3 linked regions of the Homo sapiens genome follow. Changing the gene in region 1 together with any one later gene gives a genetic interaction. Each region holds a gene or a part of one and is shown in the gene's direction. Other genes may lie near its edges.

The links. Genes that interact genetically often act in the same process or in processes that back each other up.
Region 2: changes in FLT3 (region 1) and XAGE1A together harm fitness less than expected from each alone (positive genetic interaction), as found in Homo sapiens cells (one study listed by BioGRID).
Region 3: changes in FLT3 (region 1) and GAGE10 together harm fitness less than expected from each alone (positive genetic interaction), as found in Homo sapiens cells (one study listed by BioGRID).

What each region holds. Positions count from the first base shown.
Region 1 is NC_000013.11:28,002,573-28,007,357, reverse strand, and holds the end of FLT3 (receptor-type tyrosine-protein kinase FLT3 precursor), read left to right. Parts: intron 1-3,183; coding exon 3,184-3,306; 3' UTR 3,307-4,084; downstream 4,085-4,785. UniProt on the Homo sapiens protein: Tyrosine-protein kinase that acts as a cell-surface receptor for the cytokine FLT3LG and regulates differentiation, proliferation and survival of hematopoietic progenitor cells and of dendritic cells.
Region 2 is NC_000023.11:52,490,302-52,499,064, forward strand, and holds the start of XAGE1A (X antigen family member 1), read left to right. Parts: upstream 1-5,506; 5' UTR 5,507-5,608; exon of another isoform or gene 5,609-5,737; coding exon of another isoform or gene 5,738-5,928; intron 5,929-7,014; coding exon of another isoform or gene 7,015-7,060; coding exon 7,061-7,156; coding exon of another isoform or gene 7,157-7,172; intron 7,173-7,683; coding exon 7,684-7,810; intron 7,811-8,763.
Region 3 is NC_000023.11:49,298,648-49,306,902, forward strand, and holds the start of GAGE10 (G antigen 10), read left to right. Parts: upstream 1-4,998; 5' UTR 4,999-5,106; intron 5,107-6,204; 5' UTR 6,205-6,212; coding exon 6,213-6,293; intron 6,294-6,717; coding exon of another isoform or gene 6,718-6,756; coding exon 6,757-6,877; intron 6,878-8,255.

The sequences.
Region 1 (4,785 bases):
AGAGAATCACTTCTGCCTAGGAGGTTGAGGCTGCAGTGAGCTGTGATTGCACCACTGTACTCCAGCCTGAGTGACAGAGCGAGACCCTGTCTTGAAAAAGAAAAAAGCACAAATAAATAACATTCAGATGAAAAGGAAACGATAACTAAGGAAAAAAGAACCATTTTTTAAAGTATAAGAAAATTTATATACTTCTTTATAATGATACATTTGAAAACCTAGGGTTTGTTTCACAATTTCATAAGGAGAATGTATTTAAAAAGTCATTTAAAGGTCACTTTTATGATGTTATCTGTGAGCCTGTTAAAAACAACAGTGGCTGAGGGTGGTGGCTCACGCCTGTAATCCCAGCACTTTGGGAGGCCTAGGTGGGTGGATCACTTGAGGCCAGGAGTGCAAGACCAGCCTGGTCAACATGGTGAAACCCTGTCTCTACTAAAAAAATATAAAAATTAGCCAGGTGTGGTGGTACACACCTGTAGTCCCAGCTACTTGAGGCACAAGAATTGCTTGAACCTGAGAGGCAGAGGTTGCTGTGAGCTGAGATCATGCCACAACACTCCAGCCTGGGCAACAGAGTGAGACTCTGTCACAACAGCAACAGCAACAACAAAAAAAAAAAAAAAAAAGGAAAGAAAGGTCACTTAAAGAAATGGAAAAGAGTGATGTATTACAACTATACCCAGTAACTAGCTATGGGAGTGGAGAGAGATTGTCAGAGATGGTTCTAGAAACTTCTAGACAGTGAGACTGGATGAAGAGCACATGTTAGTTAATTCAGGTGGAAGATTGGAAGTGTTATTGGTATTTGTGCTACACAAACTTCATGAGGTGGTTAGAAATTCAGTGGTAGAGATGTACATTTGGATTCAACAGGTTCAACAAATGCTAACTAACTGCTATGTCTACTTCACAAAAGGCACGCATGAGTAGTTACTGTTCATCCTTCAGGGTACAAGCAAAGCTGTCATTGTGCAACACCTGGTTCACAATGGATATATTTTGGGTCAAAGGATACACACACACACACACACACACACACACACACACAATTTTCTAGAAAGAAAAGTGAAGTGTAGGAGGCAGTCTGGACAGTTCACATTAAAACTGTCAAAAACAAAGAAAAAGAAGTAGACAGTAACAAGGGCTGTGGGAACGGAACAAATCTATAAAATTTAAATAGAATGCATGATTCCTAAATCATAAAGTTCTTATAAACAAATAATAATAAAAATGTATCACCTTTTAAAAACTTATTTCTTTTAGAGACAGGATCTTGCTATGTTGGTTAGTTTGGTCTTGAACTCTTGGCCTCAAGCAATCCTCCCGCCCCGGCCTCCCAAAGTGCTAGGATTACAGAGTTGAGCCAGTACACCCAGCCTGTATAGCCTTTTATATACATAAAAGGCAAAGGAAATAGGCAGGCTATTCAAAATGAAAACAAATGGACATAAAGTATAGGAAAAAGGCCCAACTTTGCAGATAGTGAAACATATATAGTTAAGGAGATAGAACTTCTTGCTCAGCAAAAGAGAAGAGATGTGGGAGGCTGACATACCCATTGTTCAGAAGGCTCTGGAAAATATAGTTTCCAGGCACCGTTGATAGGAGTAGAAATAAATACAACCTTTCTGCAGGGCAGCCTGGCCTTGTGTATCACAGTTCAAGTGTGCATCCTTTTTGATCCAGCAATTCCACTTCTGCTTATCCCAACGTCAGACTAGATTGAGTGTGCACTTTTCAGTTTGTTTCGTATAACCAGTTGGTCAAAAGGTTAATTATGATGCATCAGTACTATGGAACTCTAGGCTGCCGTGAAAAAAAAATATGTGGCCATCCTTAGTGAATAATGTAAATATGTGACACAGGCAACATATGAGCAGTATAATAACAATATATTGATAATTCAAAATAAGGTTCCAAAATAGAATATATAGCCTGAGCCCACAGACACAAAATTGTGTGTGCATAGCAAGCTGTCTATAATGGCGGGTACTTGTCATGACTTGTAGCCTTTTTTCTTTTTTTTGAGATGGAGTCTTGCTCTGTCACCCAGGCTGGAGTGCAGTGGCACAATCTAGGCTCACTGCAGCCTCCACCTCCCAGGTTCAAGCAATTCTCCTGCCTTAGCCTCCCAAGTAGCTGGGACTGCAGGCGCGCGCCGCCATGCCCGGCTAGTTTTGTATTTTTAGTAGAGACAGGGTTTCTCCACGTTGGCTAGGCTGGTCCTGAACTCCCAACCCCAGGTGATCCGCCCGCCTCGGCATCCCAAAGTGCTGGGATTACAGGCATGAGCCACTGCGCCCGGCCTTCTACGTCTCTTTCTGTATTTCTCAAATTATCTATATGAATGCATGTTAACTTCATATTTGGGAAAGGAAAGTAAATCTCTTCATTTCAGAAAAAAATATTTAAAAGTCGTGAAACTCCAAGGGAAAACTCAAGAATCAGTCCCTTGTATTAACTCCATAATGAACAGATTTCCTTTTGTGGCCTTTCTCTTTTATGATTTTTCTGCATGGTTTTAGGATTTCTAGGGTGACATTTTATATCTGAGAGTAGACTCAATAATGAAATAAAATATTTGACTATGATTTGATTTCTCCATTAATAAAAGGACCAAAATTGCTTTTTTAGTTATATAGAATATCCTCTGAGACCTATGCATAATAAAAGTACTTGTCTACACGTTTCCTGAAAATATGTACATCTATTATATATCAGTTTAAACATTTTAAAAGTGATGTCTAGGCCGGGCGTAGTGGCTCACACCTGTAATCGCAGCACTTTGGGAGGCCGGGGTGGTGTGGGATCACTTGAGCCCAGGAGTTTGAGACCACCCTGGACAACATAGTGAGACTTTGTCTTTACAAAAAATAAAAAAATTAGCAGGGTGTGGTGGAGCCTGCTTGTGGTCCCAGCTACTCAGGAGGTTAAGGTGGGAGGATTGCTCAAACCCAGAACATCAAGGCCACGGTGAACTATGGTTGTACCACTGCACTCCAGTCTGGGCAACAGAGCGAGACTCTGTCTCAAAAAATAAACAAACAAACAACAAACAAACAAAAAAGTAATTGTCTATATAGAACAACTGTTTTTATTTAAATAATTTGTAATATGGGCGCATAACATGTGCATCTACATCAGATGGTAATCAGTGTTCTGTCTCTTTCCCACATTCAGATGTATCAGAATGTGGATGGCCGTGTTTCGGAATGTCCTCACACCTACCAAAACAGGCGACCTTTCAGCAGAGAGATGGATTTGGGGCTACTCTCTCCGCAGGCTCAGGTCGAAGATTCGTAGAGGAACAATTTAGTTTTAAGGACTTCATCCCTCCACCTATCCCTAACAGGCTGTAGATTACCAAAACAAGATTAATTTCATCACTAAAAGAAAATCTATTATCAACTGCTGCTTCACCAGACTTTTCTCTAGAAGCTGTCTGCGTTTACTCTTGTTTTCAAAGGGACTTTTGTAAAATCAAATCATCCTGTCACAAGGCAGGAGGAGCTGATAATGAACTTTATTGGAGCATTGATCTGCATCCAAGGCCTTCTCAGGCTGGCTTGAGTGAATTGTGTACCTGAAGTACAGTATATTCTTGTAAATACATAAAACAAAAGCATTTTGCTAAGGAGAAGCTAATATGATTTTTTAAGTCTATGTTTTAAAATAATATGTAAATTTTTCAGCTATTTAGTGATATATTTTATGGGTGGGAATAAAATTTCTACTACAGAATTGCCCATTATTGAATTATTTACATGGTATAATTAGGGCAAGTCTTAACTGGAGTTCACGAACCCCCTGAAATTGTGCACCCATAGCCACCTACACATTCCTTCCAGAGCACGTGTGCTTTTACCCCAAGATACAAGGAATGTGTAGGCAGCTATGGTTGTCACAGCCTAAGATTTCTGCAACAACAGGGGTTGTATTGGGGGAAGTTTATAATGAATAGGTGTTCTACCATAAAGAGTAATACATCACCTAGACACTTTGGCGGCCTTCCCAGACTCAGGGCCAGTCAGAAGTAACATGGAGGATTAGTATTTTCAATAAAGTTACTCTTGTCCCCACAGTCCCCTTCATTTTATTTTTATTTATTTGTTTGTTTATTTAATGTTTTAGTGACAGGGTCTCACCCTGTCTCCCAGGCTGGAGTGGAGTGGTGAGATCACAGCTCACTGCAGCCTGAAACTCCTGGCCTCAAGCGATCCTCCCACCTCAGCCTCCTGAGTGGCTGGGACTACAAGCACAGGCCACCACGCCCAGCTAATTTTTAAAATTTTTTGTAGAGATAGTGTCTTGCTATGCTGTGCAGGCTGGTCACAAATTCTTGGCCTCAAACAGTCCTCTTGCCTCAGCCTCCTAAAGTGCTGGGATTACAGGTGTGAGCCATGGCGACCAGCCCTCTTTGTCCTTTGAAGCTTAGCACCCTCCATCCTGTAGGCTTATGAACTTGGTTTGTGCCCCCGCCCCGCCCACCTCCGCTTACACGACAGGTGCCACCAAATTCTGCCTCTTCTTTCTCCTCCACCTCCTGTTGCATGTAGTGGTGAGGGACAAGGGATCTGGAACCGGTCAGCCCAGGTTGGAATTCTCTTTTCACCTGGCCTTAGCTGTGTCATTGGGGCAAGTAACTCAACTTCTCTAGCCTCAGTTTCCTTTTCTGAAAAATGGGACACTAATGGCATCTCTTTTATAGAGTTGCTGGAATAATTAGATGAATTAAATATATACGTAGCTTAGAAATATAGAAATATAGAACATAAACATATA
Region 2 (8,763 bases), on another chromosome or scaffold:
GTCTGGATAAAGGTTTATTAATTCGAGTTGTCTTCTCAAAGAAACAATGTCTGGGTTTCACTGATAATTTCTATAGATTTTTATCAATTCTATTTAATTCATTTTTCCTCATGTCTTTTAAATTTTTTCCTTCTTTTTTTCTCCTTTTTTTTTTTTTTTTTTTTTAACAGAATCTCGCACTGTCACCCAGGCTGGAGTGCAGTGGCATGATCTCGGCTCACTGCAGCCTGCACCTCCCAGGTTGAAGAGATTCTCCTGCCTTAGCCTCCCGAGTAGCTGAAACTATAGGCGTGCACCACCAGCCCAGCTAACTTTTGTATTTTTAGTAGAGACCGGGTTTCACCATGTTGGCCAGGCTGGTCTCGAACTCCAGACCTCAGGGGATCGGCCACCTCAGCCTCCAAGAGTGCTGGGATTACAGGCATGAGCCACTGTGCACGGTCTAACAGTTTTCCTTCTGACTTTGGGTATAATTTGATTTCATTTTTCTAGTTTCTTAATGTGGAAACCTAGATAATTGATTTGAGACTTTTCTTCCTTTCTGGCATAAGTATTGAAGGGTATAAATTTCCCTCTATGCTTTAGTTTCATCTTGCAAAGTTTGATAAGTTGAGTTTTCATTTTAAAATTTTTTCCTGCAATTTCTTCTTTGATCTCTGAGTTACTTAAATGTGACATTTAATTTCCAAGATTTCATGAGTTGCAGACATCTTTCTACAACTAATTTCCATTTCAATTCTTTTTTTGGTCATAGAACATGTTTTATAACATTTCATTCCTTTTGAATTTGTTGAGATTTGTTTTTTGGCCCACAATATGGTCTATCTTGGTGAACATTCTATGAGCACTTGAGAAGAATGTGCATTCTGCTGTTGATCTATGAATATCAATTAGGCCATGCTGTCTGATAGTGTTGTTCAAGCCTTCTGCATTTATATATCCTGATTTTTTGTACACTTTTTCTACCAAATGCTGGGAGTAATGGGGAAGTCTTCTACTAAAGGCACATGTGTTTATTTCTTCTTTGTGATGATGTATCAGTTGTCCCTCAAGTATTTTGAAGTTGCCTACATATCCGTGGTGTTTCTGTCTTCTGAATCAATGCACCTCTCTATGATTATTATGTAATGTCCCACTTTGTCCCTTGTAGTAATCTCCACTATAAAGTGTGCTTTGTGAGATACTAATTTCACACTTTGAGTTTATGTGATTCATATTTGCAGGAAATATCTTTTTCCATCTTTTACTTGTATCTTATTTATTTGTAGAGTGGGGCTCTTTTTTTCAAGATACAGATTACTGATAAATATACTGTGAAAATCAAGATCCTCTTGCAACTGTGCAACAACAATAAAAGTACCGAAAAATTAGATGCAGAAGTTAATATACAACTAAAATGTTACGCAGAAATCCACAGAATAATCTGCTCGGCTCTTCAAAAGAACCTCAATCAAACTCTTTGACAGCCTTCATAGAAAGATATCTTCACATTAAAGTGGTATATTTATATGAAAAATATAATTTTATCCCCCTATTTTCTACAGTAGGGTTTTGGGTAAAATTTCATTTCACGAAGGTGTTCTTTTGCTAAAAATCCTTTGAGAAACAACTATATAAAATGATCTCTCAGAGCTCTCTTAGCTTTGAAATGTGGAGATTCAAATATCCCTCTGTAGATTGAGGAGGAGATGTAAAAAAAAAAAACAAAACAAAACAAAAAAAAAAACAAAAAAAACCACGGGGGAGGAAATGTTGGTCTCCTGCACTTTTCTTTTCTTTTTCTTCCTAGACTAACCAGTTTGTGTTGGTCCTCCGCTGAGCTGTTAATCCAGGGAAGAGTTGCCCTTCTGAAGAATATGTGGATTTAATGGAGACCAAGGCAGGTTTGAATCGCTCAGAAACAACAGCCAGAATAACTTTTGAAGGGCTGTAAATGAAGATGATTCAAATCCTCTGATTTATGTTACTTTTCACTCAAGTTTCTAAAAGTGCCTTCCCATCAAGAGCTGTTTGGCTAGGGACAGAAACGTTTGTTCAGCCCTATTTTTCTCTTCCTTCCTTCCTTCCTTCCTTCCTTCCTGCCTCCCTTCCTGCCTCCCTCCCTCCCTCCTTTACTTCTTTCCACCCTCCCTCCCTCGCTCCATTTGTCCTTATTTTCTCCCTTCCTCCCTGGCTCCCTTCATGCCTCACTCCCTTCCTTCTTTCCTACCTTTTATAAAAAGAAGTGAACTGATATTTGTAAAGTAGAAAGATCAGAAGAGTTCACAATTATTTTCGAGTTTTCTTTTAACTTTTATTTTGGGTTCAGGGTGCATGTGCAGGTTTGTAATATAGGTAAACTCATGTCATGGGGTTTGTTGTACAGATTATTTCATCACCCAGGTAGTAAGGCCAGTGCCCATTAGTTATTTTGTTGATCCTCTCCCTCCTCCCAGCCTCTACCCTCTGATAAGCCCCAGCGTGTTGGCCCTCTCTGGGTGTCCATGTGTTCTCAGCAATTAGCTCCCATTTATAAGTGACTTCATGTGGTATTGGGTTTTCTGCTCCTGCATTAGTTTGCTAAGGATAATGGCCTCCAGCTCCATCCGTGTTCCTGGAAAGGACATGATCTCACTGTTTTTTATGGCTGCATAGTACTCCATGGTGTATATGTACCACATTTTAAAAAGTGCAGTCTGTTATTGATGGGCATTTAGGTTGATCCCATGTCTTTGCTATTGTGAGTAGTGCTACAATGATCATACATGTGCATGCGTCTTTATAATAGAAAGGTTTATGTACCTTTGGGTATAGTCCCAGCAATGGGATTGCAGGGCCAAATGGTATTTCTGTTCTTAAGTCCGTGAGGAATTGCCACACTCCTTTCCACAATGGTTGAACTAATTTATACTCCAACCAACAGGGTATAAGCGTTGCCTTTTCTGCACAAACTCACCAGCGTCTGTTATTTTTGTTCTTGCTTTTTATCCAGCCTTATAGACTCTGACTCTGTTTTTTGAGACAGGATGTCTTTCTGTCTGTGAACGTGAATTCCGCTGGTGTCTGAGACTTGCCAGGATTCCAGCTCTCTCAAATGCCTGTGTTCGAACTTTATGAATTTGCTACATTTTCACTGGTTTTCTTCTTACCCCCTGTTATGGCTGTCACTTCTTCCACACATGCTCTGCCACAGGTGATGCAGTTTGTTTGTCTCATCCCTCCTCAGAGGGACTAAGTCACCATTTTGGATCAGTTCCCATGGCTGCCTTGTTACCTCAGGTCTCTCATGATCTAAAAACAAAGCAAAACAAAAGATAACGTTATAGATTATTAGGCTGTTTTTCATTTTCAAGGCTAAAGTGACTTTCTCTTGAGGCTTTCTAAATCTTACCTGGTGGTAGAACTCTCCTTTGTTAATCTTTTGACTACTGGTACAAAAATACAGCATTCAAATATGTGAAGTAAAAGATAATCCAGGGGCTAGCTGACTATGGCTTGAGATCTAAATACAGCCCATGGCTTGTTTTGCATAGCCATTGAGATAAGGATTTTTTTCCATTTAAAAGTATTATTGCTAAAAAACACAACACTACGCCACAGAAACTACATGACCCACAAAGACTGAAATAATTACGATCAGATCTGTTAAAGCAAAATTTGGTGATGCCGTATTAATCAAATACCTGTTATTCTGCTTTGCATTATTGCATACATCTTTTCATCCATTAATTAATTTATTTACACACGGATTGAAAATATGGATGTTACTCTATCCCCTCAAGAAAGCGTCCAGCTTTATGATACCATGATTTCAGTCTGGGAAACTTGTCCCAGGGATCAGGTCAATACACAAACATACATTTGAGGTAGGAGACTGGCAGGACTTGTTTTCTGGTCATAACTGAGCCTAGAGCCTACAGTCAGAATCTATGGCTATTTCTGAAACATATACTGTCTGAATGACCTACAGGTATATTCAGGGAAATCAGTTACCAGTCCAGAGATTTAAATGTGAAGTAACACAACCTAAAAAGAAAAGAGTAAACAGGTGTGAATGTATTTATTCTACAGAAGAATTTATTCAATTACGTTTATTGGAAGCATGGCAGAAAACCCAGAACCAGAGAACAAAGTGATTAATAAAAGCATTTATAAAACTGGCCAAGGTGGGAGGATCACTTGAGCCCAGGAAATTGAGACCAGCATGGGCAACACAGTGAGACCACTATCTAAAAAATAAATAAATAATAAATAAACCAATTACCCAGGTGTGGTGTCTGCACCTGTAGTAGCAGGGACTGGGGAGGCTACATCGGGAGGATTGTTTGAGCCCAGGAGATGGAGGCTTCAGTGAGGTATGGTCATGCCACTGCCCTCCAGCCTGAGCAACAGAGTGACACTCTGTCTGGAAAAAAAAATAAATAAAAACGGCTTTATAAATAAAGATATGAAAATAATTTATTTCTTCCACAAAAGGTCTTCCTGAGACACATCCTCCAGTAAGGGACTGTCTGTTCCCAACGTTTCTGAATGCATGAGATTGGACAAAGAGAGACGAAAGCTCTCAAGTCCCTTTTTCTACTACAAACGCCATGGGGATGCGGGTCTGGGAACAGCGGAAAACCCTACCCTGCCCTGAAAAGTCCCTGGCTCAATGTGCATGTCCCTTTCTATGAAAGTTCCTTGCTGCCTATGCGCCTTGCTCTCTAACTTCTGTCCCTCCACAACTGTGAAAGGAGACGTCGTGACTTCCTTCTTTCGTGCTGACTATGACTTAGCCAGTAGGTCTGCAGATCAGTCCTCCCAGAAAGTGAAGTGTGAGTGAGTGTGAGGGGGAGCGTGGGGGGCTTCCTGTGGGTTGTGCCACTTGGTCCATGGCCTCTGAGGTCGTCATCTTTCTACTAAAACTCAGCGATACTGCCATGGCCTTGCTGTTGTGGGGTCCCGGGCATGGGACGAAGGAGGGCCATAGCGGGGAGGAGGGTCAGGTGAGCATGGAGTGAGTTTTTTTTTTTTTTTCACGGAGTCTTGCTCTGTCACCAGGCTGGAGTGCAGTGGCGCAATCTCGGCTCACTGTAACCTCCGCCTCCCGGGTTCAAGTGATTCTCCTGCCTCAGCCTCCCGAGTAGCTGGGAGTACAGGCGCGCACAACCACACCCAGCTAATTTTTGTATTTTTCAGTAGAGACGGGTTTTAACCATGTTGGCGAGGATGGTCTCGATCTCTTGGCCACATGATCCACCCGCCTCCGCCCCCCAAAGTGCTGGGATTACAGGCGTGAGCCACCGCGCCCGGTCATGGAGTGAGTTTTGAAGGCTGACTTTATTTGAGGTATTTGAGTCCTGGTGGGGGGGAACCCACACACAGAGAGGAGGGATTCCAAAGTCGTTAATGGGGACCTGGGAAGGAGCATAGGACAGGGCAAGGCGGGATAAGGAGGGGCACCACAGCCCTTAAGGCACGAGGGAACCTCACTGCGCATGCTCCTTTGGTGCCCACCTCAGTGCGCATGTTCACTGGGCGTCTTCCCATCGGCCCCTTCGCCAGTGTGGGGAACGCGGCGGAGCTGTGAGCCGGCGACTCGGGTCCCTGAGGTCTGGATTCTTTCTCCGCTACTGAGACACGGCGGGTAGGTCCACAGGCAGATCCAACTGGGAGTTGAAGTGTGAGTGAGAGTGAAGAGGAACCAGCAGGCTTCCGGAGGGTTGTGTGGTCAGTGACTCAGAGTGAGAAGGCCCTCGAAGTCGTCGTCCCTCTCATGCGGTGCCACGCCCATGGACCTTCTTGTCTCGTCACGGCCATAACTAGGGAGGAAGGAGGGCCGAGGAGTGGAGGGGCTCAGGCGAAGCTGGGGTGCTGTTGGGGGTATCCGAGTCCCAGAAGCACCTGGAACCCCGACAGAAGATTCTGGACTCCCCAGACGGGACCAGGAGAGGGACGGCATGAGCGGTATGGAAGGGTCCTGGAGACGGGGCATGCTGCGGGCTAGTGACCGCAGCCCCGAGGTCTGTAGAGTGCCTGGCATAGGGGTCCTGTGAGGAGTGCCCACTGCTGTGTAGCAAATTCTCAACTCCACTGTGGAGATTCCAATGGGCGGGGCCCTGAGTTCCTAAAAATGTGACTTTGGGGTGGGGGGGAAGTGGGCCTAGCAAATCATTATGTGACAAAATTGGTGGTCACTGCAGTTTCAGTTCTGTAGCTGTAATTTCCTACTTGTCTCCCTGATGGAGTGTCCAGTTGTGAAACCAACCTCATGGGAAATGCCCTGTGTTTTTTGCCAGGAGCCTTAAGACATCGCTCAGCTAGCTAGACCTACTTAAGTGGCTTTGCAAGCATTCGATTCAAAAGGTGCATACACTTATACTTGCCCGGGGACTTTCAGAGTATTTCTAAATTAAAAAAAAAAAAAATGTCCAAGTTAACATTTGACCATGAAAGCGGTCAAATCTAGTTGTCCTGTCAAGTGCATTTTCCCAATCGCAGTATTCTGCTTGCAGAGTGAAGTATGTGTTGATGAGGACGATCAACATATAGGCCTATGCCAAGAAGTTCACAACCTCCTGAGCTCATTGTGCCTCTGCTTGTGAATGTCTTAACATTCGATGTTTTCTCTTAGCAGAAAGTTATTTTTCTGATAGTGTTGATGGACTAGTATGGATACACTGATAATGGTCTCCCATGCTGATAAAAAATGATCATGGCATCCCATGAAGGAAAGATTAGTCCAGAGGGTTATATTTGGGTTTTGTGTGGGTGGATGATCGTGTGTGCCCAGATTTTGTCCATAACTTCCTCCTCATGCTTATTCAGAACAGATTACACACATTCATCCCAACATTGATTAAAACGGCTTCCAAAGTCCCTGAGGATATCTGTCTTTGAGTAACCTCTCTGAGGGAAGAATAGTGTTATGAAGATTAGGTATACGGGGTAGTGTTGGAGAAATGTCTCTAGACATACTTATAATAAGACATACCTGTGTATTCTGTATATTTATATTATTGACATGTATTAATAACAAAACTTTTTATCTAGACACACACAAACACAGAACCACACAGCCAGTCCCAGGAGCCCAGTAATGGAGAGCCCCAAAAAGAAGAACCAGCAGCTGAAAGTCGGGATCCTACACCTGGGCAGCAGACAGAAGAAGATCAGGATACAGCTGAGATCCCAGGTGCTGGGAAGGGAAAGTATGTCTATGGGGCGGGAGAAGGTCTATGTGTGCATTGTGGCCTATGCCATGAGCAGTAACAGGAGCAAAGAGAACATTAGGAAAAGATACCAAACATTTGCTCAAAGTTGGCTGGAAAAGGGAGAGTATAGTTTGCAGCTTCATGCTGTCCCTGGATATAATGAATCTTCTCTTGTTCTTCGAGATGGATTTTGTATGCTTGAAAATACAGTCCTTACTAAATCACTTGAAACCATTTAATTTGGTGTATAGAAATGTACATTTTTTTATTATGTGGCAGAGGCTCATCTGTCACGCAGTGTGGATTGTTGTGGCATGATCTTGGCTCACTGCCACCTCCAGCTCTTGGGTTCAAGCGACCTCGGCCTCCCAAAGTGCTGAGATTACAGGCATGAACCACTACGCCTGGCTCAGGCTTTATTTCGTAACGCGAAGGAAGAGAATATTATCATTTCCTTATTTATATTTCATGTTGGAATGCTTAAATCGATAACCTTTGTATTTTGAAGTGCGCGACATGGAAGGTGATCTGCAAGAGCTGCATCAGTCAAACACCGGGGATAAATCTGGATTTGGGTTCCGGCGTCAAGGTGAAGATAATACCTAAAGAGGAACACTGTAAAATGCCAGAAGCAGGTATGTTATCCAGCAAGATGCAAAGTTATGTGCTTTCTCATTTACACAGTATTATACTTTTGATAATAGAGGGATAACATTAGTGCTACTTTAAAAACACAGTGCAAATGCAAATGTTCTTTGAAACGTCGTTCAGACCCAAATGCCAGATTGCAAGACTTAAACACTATCAGATACAGAAACAAATTGGGTCAAAGCCATATTGAATCATCAAACGTGACAGCATTTTCTTAGTTTGGTGTATAACCAACAGCTAACAATTTTCAGATTCTTTTCTAATTTCTGCTTTTAACAAACACATAATGCATTTGTAATACCAGTTTGTGTGAAGTATGCTGAGCCCTGAAGCAGATTCTAGTACCAGCTCTACCATAATTTGTGAGAGTCTGGATGAATCGTATAAATTCCACAGGCATCCTTGCTCTTAGTGAAAAGAGTGGATGCACATCAGATAGATTAAAATCCATTTCGTTGCTAATTTCCACATGCTCTGGTTCTGTTGGATAGAAGACCAAGATATTCTGATCTTCATGATTTGTTTATCATAACAATCAGCTTCAGTCCAATTATAGTGTCTGAGTTGAGATTTCATGGTTCCTAGGAAAATGAGCGGGCACTCTGCTTGGTGTTTGTTTTCCTGTGTGGAGCCCTGTATGAGTGTTCTTGTATTTTGCCAAATTCTGAGTTCTCTGTCTCTTAAAGAATAATTGCATTTTAAAGCCTTCCCGCAGTGAAGCCTTGAATGACTGAATGATAAAATGGCAGGAGATCATCAGGTTTCTGTGGCCAGTGAAGTAGAGAGAATGCATGTAGGTCAGTGATGCCCAAGGTGGGTGTAAGATGCTTCTGCTAAGCATGCTCCCTGCCCTCCCGTCAGTCTTCATGAACTACTTCGTGTAATTAGATTGAAGACTCATATAGTAGAGTCACCTCTAACCATACCATAGGTTACA
Region 3 (8,255 bases), on another chromosome or scaffold:
CCAGTCAAATGTAGGTTTGGTCTTTTCACATAGTCCCATATTTCTTGGAGGCTTTGTTCGTTCCTTTTTATTCTAATCTTGTTTTCATGCTTTATTTCATTAAGTTGATCTTCAGTCTCTGATATCCTTTCTTCCGCTTGATCGATTTGGCTATTGATACTTGTGTATACTTCATGAAGTTCTCGTGCTGTGTTTTTCAGCTCTATCTGGTCGTTTATGTTCTTCTCTAAATTAGTTATTCTAGTTAGCAATTTCTCTAACCTTTTTTCAAGGCTCTTAGTTTCCTTGCATTGGGTAAGAACATGCTCCTTTAGCTCGAAGGAGTTTGTTATTACCCACCTTCTGAAGCCTACTTCTGACAGTTCGTCAAACTCATTCTCGGTCCAGTTTTATTTCCTTGCTGGCAAGGAGTTGTGATCCTTTGGAGGAGAAGATGCATTCTGGGTTTTGCAATTTTCAGCCTTTTTGTGCTGGATTTTCCTCATCTTTGTGGATTTATCTCCCTTTGGTCTTTGATGTTGGTGACCTTCAGATGGGGTTTCTGTGTGGATGTCCTTTTTGTTGATGTTGATACTACTCCTTTCTGTTTGTTAGTTTTCCTTCTAACAGTCAGGCCCCTCTGCTGCAGGTCTGCTGGAGTTTGTTGGAGTTCCACTCCAGACCCTGTTTGCCTGGGTATCACCAGCAGAGGCTGCAGAACAGCAAAGATTGCTGCCTTTTCCTTCCTCTGGGAAGCTTCGTCCCAGAGGGGCACCTGCCAGATGCCAGCCGGAGCTCTTGTATATGAGGTATGTGTCAGCCCCTGCTTGAAGGTGTCTCCCAGTCAGGAGGCATGGGGGTCAGGGACCCACTTGAGGAGGCAGTCTATCCCTTAGCAGAGCTTGAGCGCTGTGCTGGGAGATCCGCTGCTCTCTTGAGAGCCAGCAGGCAGGAACATTTAAGTCTGCTGAAGCTGTGCCCACAGCCGCCCCTTCCCCCAGGTGCTCTGTCCCAGAAAGATGGGAGTTTTATCTATAAGCCCCTGCCTGGGGCTGCTGCCTTTCTTTCAGAGATGCCCTTCCCAGAGAGGTGGAATCTAGAGAGGCAGTCTGGCTACAGCGGGTTTGCCAAGCGGCCGTGGGCTCTGCCCAGTTTGAACTTCCCGGAGGCTTTGTTCATAATGTGAGGGGAAAACTGCCTACTCAAGCCTCAGTAATGACAAACGCCCCTCCCCCCACCAAGCTTGAGCATCCCAGGTCAACTTCAGACTGCTGTGCTGGCAGTGAGAATTTCAAGTCAGTGGATCTTAGTTTGCTGGGCTCCGTGGTGGTGGGACCTGCTCAGCTAGACCACATGGCTCCCTGGCTTTAGCCCCCTTTCCAGTGGAGTGAACGGTTCTGTCTTGCTGGCATTCCAGGCACCACTGGGGTATGAAAAACAACTCCTGCAGCAAGCTCCATATCTGCCCAAACGGTTGCCCAGTTTTGTGTTTGAAACCTAGGGCCCTGGTGGCATAGGCACAGGAGGGAATCTCCTGGTCTGTGGGTTGAGAAGACCATGGGAAAAGCATAGTATCTGGGCCTGGATGCACCGTTCATCACAGCACAGTTCCTCATAACTTCCCTTGGCTAGGGGAAGGAGTTCCCCGACCCCTACTGCTTCCCCGGTAAGGCAGTGCCCCACTCTACTTCGGCTTGCCTTCCATGGGCTGCACCCACTGTCTAATGAGTCCCAGTGAGATGAGCCGGGTACCTCAGCTGGAAATGCAGAAATCACCCACCTTCTGCCTTGATCTCACTGGGAGCTGCAGACCAGAGGTATTACTATTTGGCCATCTTGCTATTGCTGCTGTTTTTTTTTTTTTTTTTTTTTTTTTTTTTTAAGACAGAGTCTCACTCTGTCACCCAGGCGGGAGTGCAGTGGTACAACTTCAGCTCACTGCACCCTCTGACTCCCAGGCTCAAGCGATCATCCCATCTCAGCCTCTTGAGTAGCTGGAACTATAGGCACAAGCCACCGTGGCCCGATTAATTTTGTTTTTTTGATATAAGTTTTGTAGAGATGAGGTCTCACTATGTTGCCCAGGATGGGATTCTCTGGCTCTTAATAAATAATTGCTTTTTAAATCTTTCACAAAGGAAACCTTGAGTGAGTGAATAATCAAAAGGTGATAGATTGTTTAGTTTCTATTTTCTGTGGCATGAAGGTCAGTGATGCTCAGGATGGGTGTGAGTAAGATGCTTGTGCTAAGCATGCTCCCTGCCCCACAGTCAGTCTGCATGAGCCACTGTTTCTAATAAGACTGTGGATAGAGTGATATAATCACCTCTAACCATATCAAATGTTACACGTAAGTTTCAGATTTTGAGACATGAGTTGATAAGATTTGAAGTTCAAAGACCATGACTTTAGTACTTCCTGAGTAATCAACTGAAATATGTTTTACATATGTGTTTTCCAAATTGCTGACCATTCATTATAAGTGCTTCTGAATTTAAAGGAGGTACTTGATGTATAGGTAAGAAATTACCTTTAAATTCTGGAGGTCTACCCTCAAAGTGTATACAGAGGTTTAATTGGATGTAAGACACAGGATCACCTTTAGGGTTCTGTTTTTTTGTCTATTTAATAAAACCCAAACTGTAGTATGCTTTACATGCCTTTAGAATCATATAAATAAACTGCTGTTAAGTAATGTTCCCAGTTGTTATGTTTCTGTTACAGGTGAAAAGCAATCACGGAGTTAAAAGAAGACAAGCTGAAATGATGCAGGCTGCTCCTATGTTGGAAATTTGTTCATTAAAATTCTCCCAATAAAGCTTTACAGCCTTCTGCAAAGTAGTCTTGCGCATCTTTTGTGAATTTTATTTCTAGCTTTCTGATGCTGTGAAATATGTATCATTCTTTGAAATTTTATATTCTAACTGTTTCAGCTGGTATGCAGAGACATCATTCCTTTTTTTTTTTTCTTTTTTTCTCTTTCCAGACAGAGTCTCACTCTGTTGCTTAGGCTAGAGTGCAGTGGTGTGATCTCTGCTCACTGCAACCCCCGCCTCCTGGATGCAAGCAATTTCTGCCTCAGCCTCCCGAGTAGCTGGGATTACAGGAGCCCACCACCTACCCAGCCAGATTTTGTATTTTTAGTAGAGACGGGGTTTCGCCATCTTGGCCGGGGTGCTCTTGAACTCCTGACCTCGTGATCCACCCACCTCGGCCTCCCAAAGTGTTGGGATTACAGGCGTGAGCCACCGCGCCCGGGCGAGACATAATTCTTATATATTGATTTTCTATCCAGCAGCCTTGTGAAATATGCTTATGAATTCTAAAAGTTTACTTCTAGATGGTTTTCAGTCTTCAACATACAGAATCATACCATCCTTGAATAAGAACAATTTTGTTTCTGCCATTTTTTTTTTCTTTTTCCTTTTGTATTTTTTGTAGAGACGGGGTTTTGCCATGTTTCCCGGGCTGTTCTTGAACTTTTGAGTGCAAGTGATGCACCCGCCTCACCTCCCACAGTGCTGAGATTACTGACGTGGGCCACCGTGCCGGGCCTGTTGTTGCCATTGTAAAGAGTTTTATTTCCTTTTCTGATTTTATGGCATTGTGCAGACCCACCTGTTAAAATGGTGACAGTCAATATCCTTGTCTTATCCCTGATGAGAAACCGAAAAATTTCAACATTTCACCATCCTATTTACTGTCCTTTTTTTGTAGATGGACTTTATCAGAGTAAGTCATTCCATTCTGTTCCAAATTTGCTGAGAGTATTCATTTGAATATATGTTGAGTTTCATCAGTGCATCTATTTTGTTTATAACAGCATTTTTTTCCCATTCATCTGTTAATGTAGTGAATTAGATTGATAACTTTGTACATTTTTATCTTCTATTTTTAAAAATCGAGACAGGGTCTCATTCTATCACCCAGGCTGGAGTGCAGTGGTGTTATCAGAGCTCACTGCATCCTTGACCTTCTTGGCTCAAGTGATCCTCCCACCTCAGGCTTCTAAGTAGCTGTGACTATAGGTACATGTAACCATTCCCAGCTAATTTTTCTTCTTCTTTTTTTTTTTTTTTGTAGTGATGAGATTTTCTCATGTTGCTTAGGCTGGTCTCGAACACCTGAGCTCAGGCAATCTGCCCAGCTCAGCCTCCAAAAATACTAGTACTACAGGCATGAGTCTTGGCCTGGCCAGTTTTTCTTATACAAGGGTCTTCTCTATGTAAAGACTAAACTTATCTGTATCTTTGTGAGGGTGTGCTAAGGGCATGATGAAATTTATCATTCTATTGATTTAAAGAAAACTATCCTTGACTTTCCAGTGTGTAAGTCCATGAAAGCATAATTATGTTGAAAGCATATATTGTTATGGGTGTTGAGAACCCTGCACTTTCTGCTGCTGTGGGAGCATGTCCTTGGAGGTACCTTTCGTCTGTTTTCTCAACTCCAAACATCTTAGGACCATGGGTTGTGACTGGTAAGGAATGTGTCTTGCGAGTTTCAAGATGGAGTTGATTTTCACATGGTGTCACTCTGGCTCTCCTGTTTCTCTAATACTGGCACTTCTCTTTCTGTGATTCTGATGCTACAAATGATAGATATCGTTTTAGTATTTTCTTATGGGTCCTAGAGATTGTATTCATTTTTCTTTCAGTCTCTTTCTCTGACTTGTTCACATTTAACAATTTCTTTTTGGGGTAGGTTGCTATTTCTGTTTTCGCAGGTGGTTTACCTGTCTTCTCAGGCAGTCACCGTGGTCCTTGTCCCCATGGTGGGGCCGGGGCAAGAGAGGGCCCTGGAGGGGAGGGGGGTTTAGTTGAAGATGGAGTGAGTTTTGAGGGGAGCACTACTTGAGTCCCAGAGGCATAGGAAACAGCAGAGGGAGGTCAGATTCCATTATCCTCAGTGGGGATGGGAATCGAGGGTTGGGGGCGTGGGGCTGGGAACGGCAGCCTTCCCCAACCCGCAGCTGTACATGCTCCTTGGCTCCCGCCTCAGTGCGCATGTCCACTGGGCGTCTTCTGCTCAGCCGCTTTACCCACGTGGAGAACGCCAGGGAGCTGTGAGGGTGTGTGGTCTCGTTCCTGTCGTCTGGAATATTTTTCCTCTACTGAGATTCATCTGGTAGGTCTGCAGGCCAGTCCTCCCGGGGTCTGAAGTGTGAGTGAGGGTGAAGAGCAGGCAGTGTGCTTCGGGTGAGTCCGTTGGGTCCTGCTTCGTGGTCTGTGGCCTCTGAGGGAGAAGGGCCTCGAGGCTTCTGAAAGGGAAGGGGCTCCTGGCCTCTGAAAGAGAAGGGCCTTGAGGTCGTCCTCCTTCTCTCAAAGGCTGTGAGGCCACCATCTGCTTTGTGGTCGTGAAGGGGCCAGGACAAGGAGGAAGGTGGGCCATGGAGGGGAGGCGGTCAGGGGCTCAGGTGAAGAAGGGGCGATTGCTGGGTGTGCTGTCAGAGGGATGGAAGTCCGGAGGTGCCAGGAATACCCGATACAGGGGAGATCCCTGAATGAGGTCCCGGACAGGTGCGAGGAGGGCGATAAAGAAGGGACCTGGCACCTGGGAAGACTGCGGGCTGGTGAGTGCCCCTGAGCTTTGTGGAGTGGGGAGCCCCGAGTGAGAAGCATCGCAAGATCTCACCTCCGCCATGGAAGGTCTGGCAACAGTGGGAAGGACTGGGAGAGGCTGTGCGGTCCAATCAAACTTGATTTGAGAGAAGTGAATGGCTCTAGTAAGTGGGAGTGTGCCCAAAGTAGCAATCACGAGAATTATGATTCACTAATGTTTTCATGTGGAGTCCACTTGTGAAACTAAACCTCATCAGAAATGACCTCTGCCAGTGGGGCGCCATGGCCTGCGCCTGTAGTCCCAGTTACTCGGGACGCTGAGGTGGGAGGATCCCTTGAGCAGGAGGTCGATGCTGCAGTGAGCTGTGATCACGCCGCTGCACTCTGCCAGAGCAACACAGGGAGACTGCGGGACCAAAAGAAATTTAGAAAAAAAATGTCCTCTGCGTTTTGTCACACGCCTTAAGATGATTGCTCTGCCAGCTTGGCCAGCATAAGTGGCTTTGTAGGCACTCAGAAAAGGTACACACATATGCTTAACTCTGGGACTTATTTTGAAAGTATTTTCAAAATTAAAACGACAAGTTAACATTTATCCATGGAGGTGATCGAATATAGCAGCCCTGTGGAGCGCACGTTCCCAATCACGGTTGTCTGTTTTCAGTGTGAAATATGAGTTGGCGAGGAAGATCGACCTATCGGCCTAGACCAAGACGCTACGTAGAGCCCCCTGAAATGATTGGGCCTATGCTGGTGAGTGCTTAAACGTTAATTCGTTGTTTTCTATTAGCAGAAATTAATTTTTGTGACAGTATTGTTGCATTAGTATGGAAATGCTGATAAAGGTCTTTCCTGCTCATAAAAAATGATGATGGCGTCTCATGAAGGAAACATTGATTCTGGAGAATTTTTTTTCCTCTAGTGTTCTTCAGCTTTTGCCCATGACTTCTTTCTCAGGCTTTGTTTGTTAATGACAGATTGTACACATGTATTCCAACACTGAGTATAATAGCCTCCAAAGTCCTCGTGCGTCACTTTTCTCATAGTAACCTTCCTGTGGGTCGAGTAACCTTATTGGGCATAGAGCATAGAGTTGGAGAAATGTCTTTAGGCTTAGTTAGGACCAGAAATAGCTATGTATTCTGTGTATATATGTAAAATTTTGTATCAATAACGAAACTTATTTTTTATTTGCACACCCACACGTATTCCCCAGCCCGAGCAGTTCAGTGATGAAGTGGAACCAGCAACACCTGAAGAAGGGGAACCAGCAACTCAACGTCAGGATCCTGCAGCTGCTCAGGAGGGAGAGGATGAGGGAGCATCTGCAGGTCAAGGTGAGGGAAAGGGAAGAAGAACGTCTGCTGGTGTGTGCGTGTGTGTGTGTTCGTGTGTGTGTGTGTGCACGTGTGTGTGTGTGTGTGTTAGGCATTGTCACATAGGAGGAAGAGGAGGAAAGAAAACAATGGAAAGAATGCCTGAAATTGACTGGAAAAGCGAGGAGGCTATGTAGTTTGCAGCTTAGCTTAGGCAAATCCCTCACTATGATAAAAGTTCTCATCTTTATGAATGAGAAAATGGAGGCGCTGGGATTGTGTTTTATCCAAGAGCCCTTGACTGGTGAATACAAAATTTGTATTTTGTTCCAAGGTTTGTGTCTTCCTACCATCTATGTTGCTGTAAAAACGGAAATGATTTTGCTGAAAATGCTTAAAACTCAAAGGCTTTACTGTAAGGTAGCTTAGTACTGACCCAAGAATAGACCCAGTTCAGAGGAGCAGGAGCAGCTCCAAAAACCGAGTCACTGAATGTCAGCCACTGTTTCCTTTGATTGATGTTTTTATATGGTACATTTGATAAAAGCTGGATAAATGAGGATACTGCCATACAGGTAGCTGGTTTAGTTATTTTCTAAGTGGCTTTTAGGAGGTGATTAAATCCTTTTATGGTTAGAAAAAGCAAAAAAGGAATTATCCTGAGATTAACATTGAGATAGAAATAATTTCTCCTAGATAAAATATTTTCAAACAAAACATTTATGTAACTGAGGTCATGGATTATTCCAGGGATGCACTGTTAAAAATTTCTAGAATCTGACTGACAACAATGCCCATTAATTGCTGTCCTCCCACTCCCTTATTCTCAGTGTGGGACAGTATATTTTCTGTGATTCACAAACAATGTTATATTTGGTGCTTTGTTCTTCACGGGGTTCATTTATGGAATATTACATTTAGGACCTTTGGACCTAAATATAACTTTATTTGAACAAAATGAAGTTTCTATTTACCTCAATAAGTAATGGGTGTCATGACTGTAAGATTTTCCATAGTCCTCAAATCCATTCAGCTAATCGATCCTTCAGAAATTGACATTGTAATTGTAACCGAAATCCTATCCATGTGGTAGACTTGAGATTTCTTAGCTGATGCACACTGCTCTCGGTACTCTATGGCTGAATATAAGCATTATACATGTCCTGTGGTTTATCCTTAGATTGTCATTTAGGAGAAAGGTCTCAAGCTGGGCTGAATGCTGTGCACGCATAGTCCCAGCTACTTGGGAGTCTGAGGTGAGAGGATTGCTTGAGCCCTGGAGTTGAAGCCCAGCCTGGGAAACATAGCAAGACCTTATCACTAATAAATAAATAAACAAACAAACAAACAAACAGATAACTAAAGGTTTCATGGTATAGGAAAACACAGATGCAAAGTT